2 linked regions of the Homo sapiens genome follow. The protein of the gene in region 2 purifies or fractionates together with the protein of the main gene of each other region. This does not show direct contact. Each region holds a gene or a part of one and is shown on either strand. Other genes may lie near its edges.

Region 1 (3,653 bases), on a different chromosome or scaffold from region 2:
ACACAGTACCCAAAAAAGGCCTTTAGGTCTCACAGTGCACTCGTGCGGGGTTGTTGTTTTACCTTCTCGCCAACCAGCCTGATTTTAATTTGTTATTTAATGAACAAGCTCTTATATAACACTTAGCACATGCCAGGCACTGGAGCTTAACAAATGCCAACGCCTTTGGTTTGATTTATTTTACTCCAGGCATCTTTTTTTTTTCTTAGTTTATGTAGATTTGCGTGACTGTTGTAATTGTAAGCTTTTTCCAGTTTTGTCCAGATGCTTGTAGTCTTTTGAAAGTTTAATTACCCAATAAAAATTTAGCCTTGTCTCCCTCTTTATTGTCTGAATATTTTGGAGCATACCAAAAGCAGCTAACAGCAGGGGCTCTGGAGCCACACTGCTCAGATTCAAATCCCAGCTCTCCACTCACCAGCTGTGTGACCTTAAGCAAGTTCCTTTAGCTCTGTGCCTCAGTTTCCTCATCTGTATAATGGGGATAATAACGATGCCTACCCCACAGGATTGTTGGGAGAATTGAGTCAATACTTGTAAAATGCTCAGCACAGGGCCTGGCATGGAGGAAGCACTGTATAAAAGTTAGGTGTGGTTCTTTTCCCTTTGTCCCTTCAAACTGAGAAACATGTGAGAAGGTGTATGACTTCCACCATTTGCCAAGCATATCACCCTTGTTCCCAGGGACTTCGAGGGTCACAGTGGCTTTTATCTTCAGTGTCTCCCATGGGATCCTTGAAGCCAATATAAAGGGGGAAAAACTCCAAGAAGCTAATAGATGATAGTGCATGGCCTTGGGGTTCAAGAGACCTGAGTTTACGTTTGGCCACCGGTCTGCCAACTCTGACCTTGGGCAAACCCCTTCATCTTCCTATGTCTTCATCTTCACACCTGTGAAATGGGGTAACATAAAATAACATTTGTAAAGCACCTAGGACAGTGCCTGACCATAATAAGCACAAAACAACTTACTTCTTATTGTCATTAAGTTACATGTCAAATTCTTTTTTTTTTTTTTTTTTTTTTTTTGAGACGGAGTCTCGCTCTATCACCCAGGCTGGAGTGCAGTGGTGCGATCTCGGCTCACTGCAAGCTCCGCCTCCCGGGTTCACGCCATTCTCCTGCCTCAGCCTCCTGAGTAGCTGAGACTACATTTGCCCGCCACCACGCCCGGCTAATTTTTTGTATTTTTAGTAGAGACGAGGTTTCACTGTGTTAGCCAGGATGGTCTCGATCTCCTGACCTCGTGATCCGCCCACCTCGGCTTGCCAAAGTGCTGGGATTACAGGCATGAGCCACCACGCCCGGCCCTGTATGTCAAATTCTTAAAGGTAACAGTATTCTTTAATGATTAAATGGAATTGCCTCACAGCGCCACACGAGGGCACTGGTGGGTGCCTTCAAAGCTGTGCTCCTGCCCTTTGCCAGGGAGCCTAGCGAATTGTGCTTCCTTTCCTGGCTCAAGTTTACCAACATTGTTTTGTCATTTGGTTGTGTTGATAGGGAAACCAGGGTCAGAAGGACCCTAGGAGTTGTCTGCTTCTACCCTAGCGTTATAAGGGTGATAAGGGCATTGTTCTGTGGGATGACATCTACCTGCCACTTGCTGAAGGCCCACATGTGCCAGGCTGTGTTGACAGCTTCACCTAGACCATCTTGGGATTTTGCAAAGTTACCTAATCCTAAAAATAACCTGTAGCATTTAAAATGCAGATTCCATGTCCCTTCCGCTAGAACTGTAGTTTGTTGATCTGGAGTAAGCACCAAGATTTCAGTCCAAGAAGAACCTCAGAGGATTCCCAGGCTCAGACAACTTCACAATACTGAATCCTCATAACAGTGTTACGCAGGGCAGTGTTACTCTTAGGCCCATCTTACAGATGAGGGAACTGAGATTCAGAGAGTTACCTGTGCGCAGTCACACAATCTGTGAGGCTTTGAGGCAGTCTGTTTCCAAACCCTGCCTTCCCCTCTTCAGTATCTCCTGTAAGTGACTGCCATCTTCCGAGAAGCCCACCCAGTCTTAGGTGGTCTGTCTGTTAGAAAGTTCCTCCTTGCCCAGCACTTTGGGAGGCTGAGGTGGGCAGATCTCTCGAGCCCAGGAGTTCAAGTTCAAGACCAGCCTGGGCAACATGGTGAAACCCCGTCTCTACCAAATTTTATATATATATATATTTATATTTATATATTTATGTGTGTGTGTGTATATGTGTATATATATATGTGTGTGTGTATATATATATATAAAATTATCCAGGCACAGTTGCCTGTGCCTGTGGTCCCAGCTGCTTAGGAGGCTGAGCTGGGAGGATTGCTTGAGCCCGGGAGGCAGAGGTTACAGTGAGCCATGATTGCACCACTGCACTCCAGTCGGGGCAACAGAGCAAGACCCTGTCTCTAAAATAAATAAATAAATAAATAAATAAATAAATAAATAAATAAATAAATATTCTTTCTTGAACTGAGACCTGCCATCCTATCCATCCCTGGTTCCTGGGGCCATAGGTCTGCTTTCCAGCCTCAAACAGCCCCTCAGAGATAGGGTGATTTTTCTCATTCACCATTTTTCTAAGCTGAACTTTCCTGGTGTCTTCCAATGTGTTGCTCAAGATGCCAGCTCAGATTGTCCCCCACCCCTAGTCCTCCTCAGATGGGGCTACCACAGCCATCTAGAGAGGTGGTTCCATCTTCAGTCTGTGGGGTCTCCTATCACACTTCTGAGTAGAAGAGGCTGGCAGAAGACCCATTGTGGAACGACGAGTTTTACCATCCTCAGGTTCAAGAGCTTGAGAAGCAATTGGGCCAGGCCCGGAGCCAGTCTGCGGGAACAGCCAGTGATGAGTTGTCTGTCTATCCAGACCCAAGGAAGCTGTCGGCACAGGAGAAAAACCTGCTGAGGATCCGCAGCCTGGAAAGGGAAAAACAGGAAGGCTTGGAGGTAACGCGTGCCTGAGGAGGTCAGCTGGGCATGTGGGAACGAGAGATCATGATGGTGCCTGCAAGGGCTCTGAGGCACATGTGGTCAGAAGTCTGAGCCACCCCTTCTAGGCAGGAGACACCTGGGGACCTGGGTCACCTCTGCATGTTCCTCATGTCCTGTCAAACCAACTTGAGCTGCCTGACTGGGACCTCACTGTGAGCCCATTTAATGAACTTTTCGTGGCCCCATCCTGGCTGTTTTGGAGGTGCTATACCTGAAATTCTCATTGTAAAAGGGAGAGGGGGAGGGTCATGGCCCCAGAAGTATGATAGGGTTAGATGGGGCTTAAAGGGGGAAAGTTCCAGGCTGATGAAAGAGGTAGGCAGGCTGGACTCAACACCAGGGGCCGCATCTCACTGGCTGCGTTGGGAGTGTCAGAACTCTAACTCTACCAGGTTTAAGCAACAAAGGGAAGTCATTGGCCCATGTAAACGAACAATCCAGAGGTGGCCTAGCTTCAGGTGCAGATCGGGGCCTTGCTCTCAGCACCTTCTCCTGGGTTGGCTTCACTCTCTTCCACAAGGACCCTGGGTAGTCCCAGCTTCTCTCCTCCAATGCAGCCTCTACAGACAAAGGGTTTCTCTTTCCCAATAGTTCCAACAAAGTCCCAGAATTGAGTGTCTTTGGTCTAGCCTGGGTTATGTGACCATCCTTGAGCCCATCACTGTAGCCA
Region 2 (3,652 bases):
GGCGACAGAGTGGGACTCCATCTCAAAAAAAAAAAAGGACTTTGGGAGGCAGAGGTGGGTGGATCACGAGGTCAGGAGTTCGAGAGCAGCCTTGCCAGCACAGCGGAACCCTGTCTCTACCAAAAATATAAAAAAATAGCCAGGCGTGGTGGCGGACACCTGTAATCCCAGCTACTTGAGAGGCTGAGGCAGGAGAATTGCTTGAACCTGGGAGGCAGAGGTTGCAGTGAGCCGAGATCGCGCCACTGCACTCCAGCCCAGTGACAGAGCAAGGACTCCGTCTCAGAAAAAAAAAAAGAAAAAATTATAGATTATAAAATGCGGTATTAAGGGAATAAAAGAATTACATGAAAATTATATGTAGTTGCTGGAAGTCCATTGTATTAATAGAAGGAATGCACAGGGACACTCTCTTATATCTAGTGTTTCTGCTGAGACCTGAAAAATGGGACTAAGCTTGCCATACAGACCTTGAGGAAGAACATTCCTGGCAGAGGGAAGAGCAAGTTTATAGGCCCTGGAGTATGTTCAAGGAAATGGAAGGCTGTCATCATGGTTGTAGAGGAATAAATAAGGAGGAAGTGGTATGCTCTTTAAGAAGCCAGCATTGGCAGCAGCCAGTTGTGGAGGGCCTTGTGCATCATCGTATGGAGTGTGAACTTAGCTCTCAATAGTGTTATGTATTTGAAGGGTTGTGTGAAATAAGTAACATGATCTGATTTGGGTTTTTAAAAGATCATTTTAACTGCTCAATAGGGCATGTATAATAAGCGTTGTTGTTAATATTTCTTCCTTTTTAAAGAAGAACTTTAGAAATGTAGCCCAAAACATATATTGTAATGTCTTCCTTGGGACAGCTTCTGAGCTCCGTTATCTGAGTCTTCCCAGAGCCAAAAATATTTGTTTTAATTTTTACTGTGTACACTTTAGAAAAAGGGCTTAAGAGACTGGTCTAGAAGTAGATTTTCAGATGTTCCTCAAAGTTCCTTGTCATCTGGTTCCTTAACTCATTTTGTACCTCTGGAAATCCCTTCTTTTCTTTCTTTCTTTGCCTAAAAGCTACTTGAATTACCTGAATTGTAGAACTGAGTGTTAATGTTTTTTGTCCCTTTGACTTGTAGTCCCTAAAAGATAAGTTAGTACAAGAGAAAAAGCTGTCCAATATGTACCAAGAGCAGTGCATTTCCTTAGAAGAAGAACTTGCCCGAATTCGTGAGGAAGAGGGAATGAGGAGAGAGATCTTCAAGGTACGAAATTATCTGCCACTTGTAATGGAATAGGAAGTGCAGATGGCTGGGGAAGACGCTTCCCTCACCTTCGTAAATGCCTTCCCATTCCCCATATTTAGGATCGCACTAACAAGATGGGGAAGCGTTTACAGATAATGACAAAACGCTATGAGGCATTGGAGCGTCGACGTATCCTGGAAGTAGAAGGCTTTAAGACAGATATTAAAGTTCTCCGACAGAAACTGAAAGACTTGGAGCAAATGTTGTATAAGGTAATTGCTGGTCCTGAATTGCCACGAGGGAGAGAAGAGGTGTAAGTGAGGGAACATGGTCACGAGGGCCCCTGAAAAGAAGGATGTGCTGTTTCCCTGCTGGTAAACACTAACAGATCACCATCTTCAAGCCTCCCTGAAAATTAGTTCAAGAACATGCTAGAGGGAAAATAAAAAGACCCTGAAATCATTGAACGACTGCATCATTCATACTTCGATGTAAGCTAAACAGATTGTCATCCCTCCTAATTCAAGAAGTAGATTAAAGAATCGTGTCTGTCTTACAGTTGGGGAGGGTGAGTAATTGAGTGATAGAGTACTTTTTTCCAGCAGACACAGTTCTTTAGAATACAAGTCGCCTCAAGAGTCTTCTTAATGAGATTTAGCCAGTTAGCCTGTGTTCCAGACAAGGTTAGTTGCAGAAAAGAGGAGACGCCTGCTTTCATTCTGTGACAAACTTACCAGTAGTGTTGCGCTTTCATTCTGTGACAAACTTACCAGTAGTGTCGCTTATCCTGGCCTCTCTTACTCCTCTTTCATGGTGCATTGATCTCTACCTCAAGCCTCCTTTATTGCATGGGAAGGATTTTCATGAGATTTCTGCCTTAATTCTACATTTTCCTTCTTTAGTTAGCCACTGAACAAAGGATGGAATTTATCCTATGTACTCAAAATCTCACAAAAAGGAGCTAGCATAGCTGTGTCTTTTTGACTGATATCGCTCCCCTGGCATATGCCATCATCATTTCTTTTTTTTTTTTTTTTTCAAACCCCTAGGCAACAGTTAATGCCCGGGCAAACCAGGATCTTGCCCTTCTGTGTGAGGTCCGTGACAGCAATAGACGGGCACATAAGATACAAGGAGAACTGAAGAATCTTAAGTCGAAAGTGTTTGGTCTGGAGAATGAACTTAGACTCTGTTAATGTCTACTTTTGGAAATGGCCCCCATTTAGAAGAGGTGTGCTTCTTGAAACCTGAGGACAAGGTCATCTGCTGCCAGAAAATGTAAACCTGAGTTGACTAGAGTGGTGGTATTCATTATTGTAAAGACAGCTTGAAGAATCGGGGACCACTAGGAAAGCTTTTCTTGCATACTCAGCTTGCTTTATCATTTTTGCTGTCCTTTTAACACTTGCGAGGAGTAGGGGCCTGGTCCTGAATGACTTGGAGGCTTTCATTATTTATCCTGTCTGTATTGACCGGTTTTTGTTTTTTCAGAAGGCAGTGATGATGAAAACTTAGGAAGAAGGTATTTTGCAATAAGCTTGGCTGAGTGTCCATGGGAAGAATACTTTCCCTAAAGAGAGAGAAGCACTCACAGAGGCTGCCTTTCTCCTGAGCTCGGGGAGAAGGCAGCACATCACAACCTGTCACATTGAAATAGGCGCTCATTCTGCTATTTCACCTTCCGTCCTGAGCAGAGCCTGAATTACGTTTTTGGGCAATTTCATGGTGTTTCACCAGAGGGCGCTAGAGACTCAAACGAAATGTCCATCTGGAAAGATTCGGGAGACACTTTGCCGAGGGGATGAAGCTGAGATGATGCTTGTATGGAAAGTTTGATATTTTTATCAGTCACATGGCTTTTGAAAAATGATGTATATATTTTAAATTAACTATTTTCAATAAAATATTTCACTCAAAAGATTTTCTTTGAGTTTTCTGTAACTTCTTCTCAATACTATATTTATGCTTCGTTAATGACTCACGCAGCTCAGTTTACGTTCTTGTCCCATGGCCTCTGCAGTTTTGTGCAAGTGTACAAGGTTTTTTGGGGGGTTTTTGAGACAGTTTCACTCTCGTCACCCAGGCTGGAGTGCAGTGGCGTGATCTCGGTCCACTGCAGCCTCCGCCTCCCGGGTTGAAGTGATTCTCCTGCCTCAGCCTCCCAAGTAGCTGTAATTACAGGCGCTCACCACCATGCTCGGCTAATTTTTGTATTTATTTTATTTTATTTTATTTTAGTAGAGTCAGGGTTTCACCATGTTGGCCAGGCTGGTCTTGAACTCCTGACCTCAGGTGATCCACCCGCCTCGGCCTCCCAGAGTGCTGGGATAACAGGTGTGAGCCACCACACCCAGCCCACAAGTTTTTTTAAATTACTCCTTTGAAATCATCTAGTGTTGGAGATAACAAAGCTAGTACGAAGG

Evidence for each region. Proteins that work in one complex are often made in the same cells at the same time.
Region 1: the proteins of CCDC77 (region 2) and CCDC13 purify together in Homo sapiens (co-immunoprecipitation; one study listed by IntAct). This does not show direct contact.

The regions. Positions count from the first base shown.
Region 1 is NC_000003.12:42,742,181-42,745,833, reverse strand, and holds part of CCDC13 (coiled-coil domain-containing protein 13), read left to right. Parts: intron 1-675; exon of another isoform or gene 676-891; intron 892-2,767; exon of another isoform or gene 2,768-2,776; coding exon 2,777-2,938; intron 2,939-3,653. UniProt on the Homo sapiens protein: Required for primary cilia formation and promotes the localization of the ciliopathy protein BBS4 to both centriolar satellites and cilia.
Region 2 is NC_000012.12:439,496-443,147, forward strand, and holds the end of CCDC77 (coiled-coil domain-containing protein 77), read left to right. Parts: intron 1-1,121; coding exon 1,122-1,247; intron 1,248-1,348; coding exon 1,349-1,501; intron 1,502-2,278; coding exon 2,279-2,425; 3' UTR 2,426-3,147; downstream 3,148-3,652.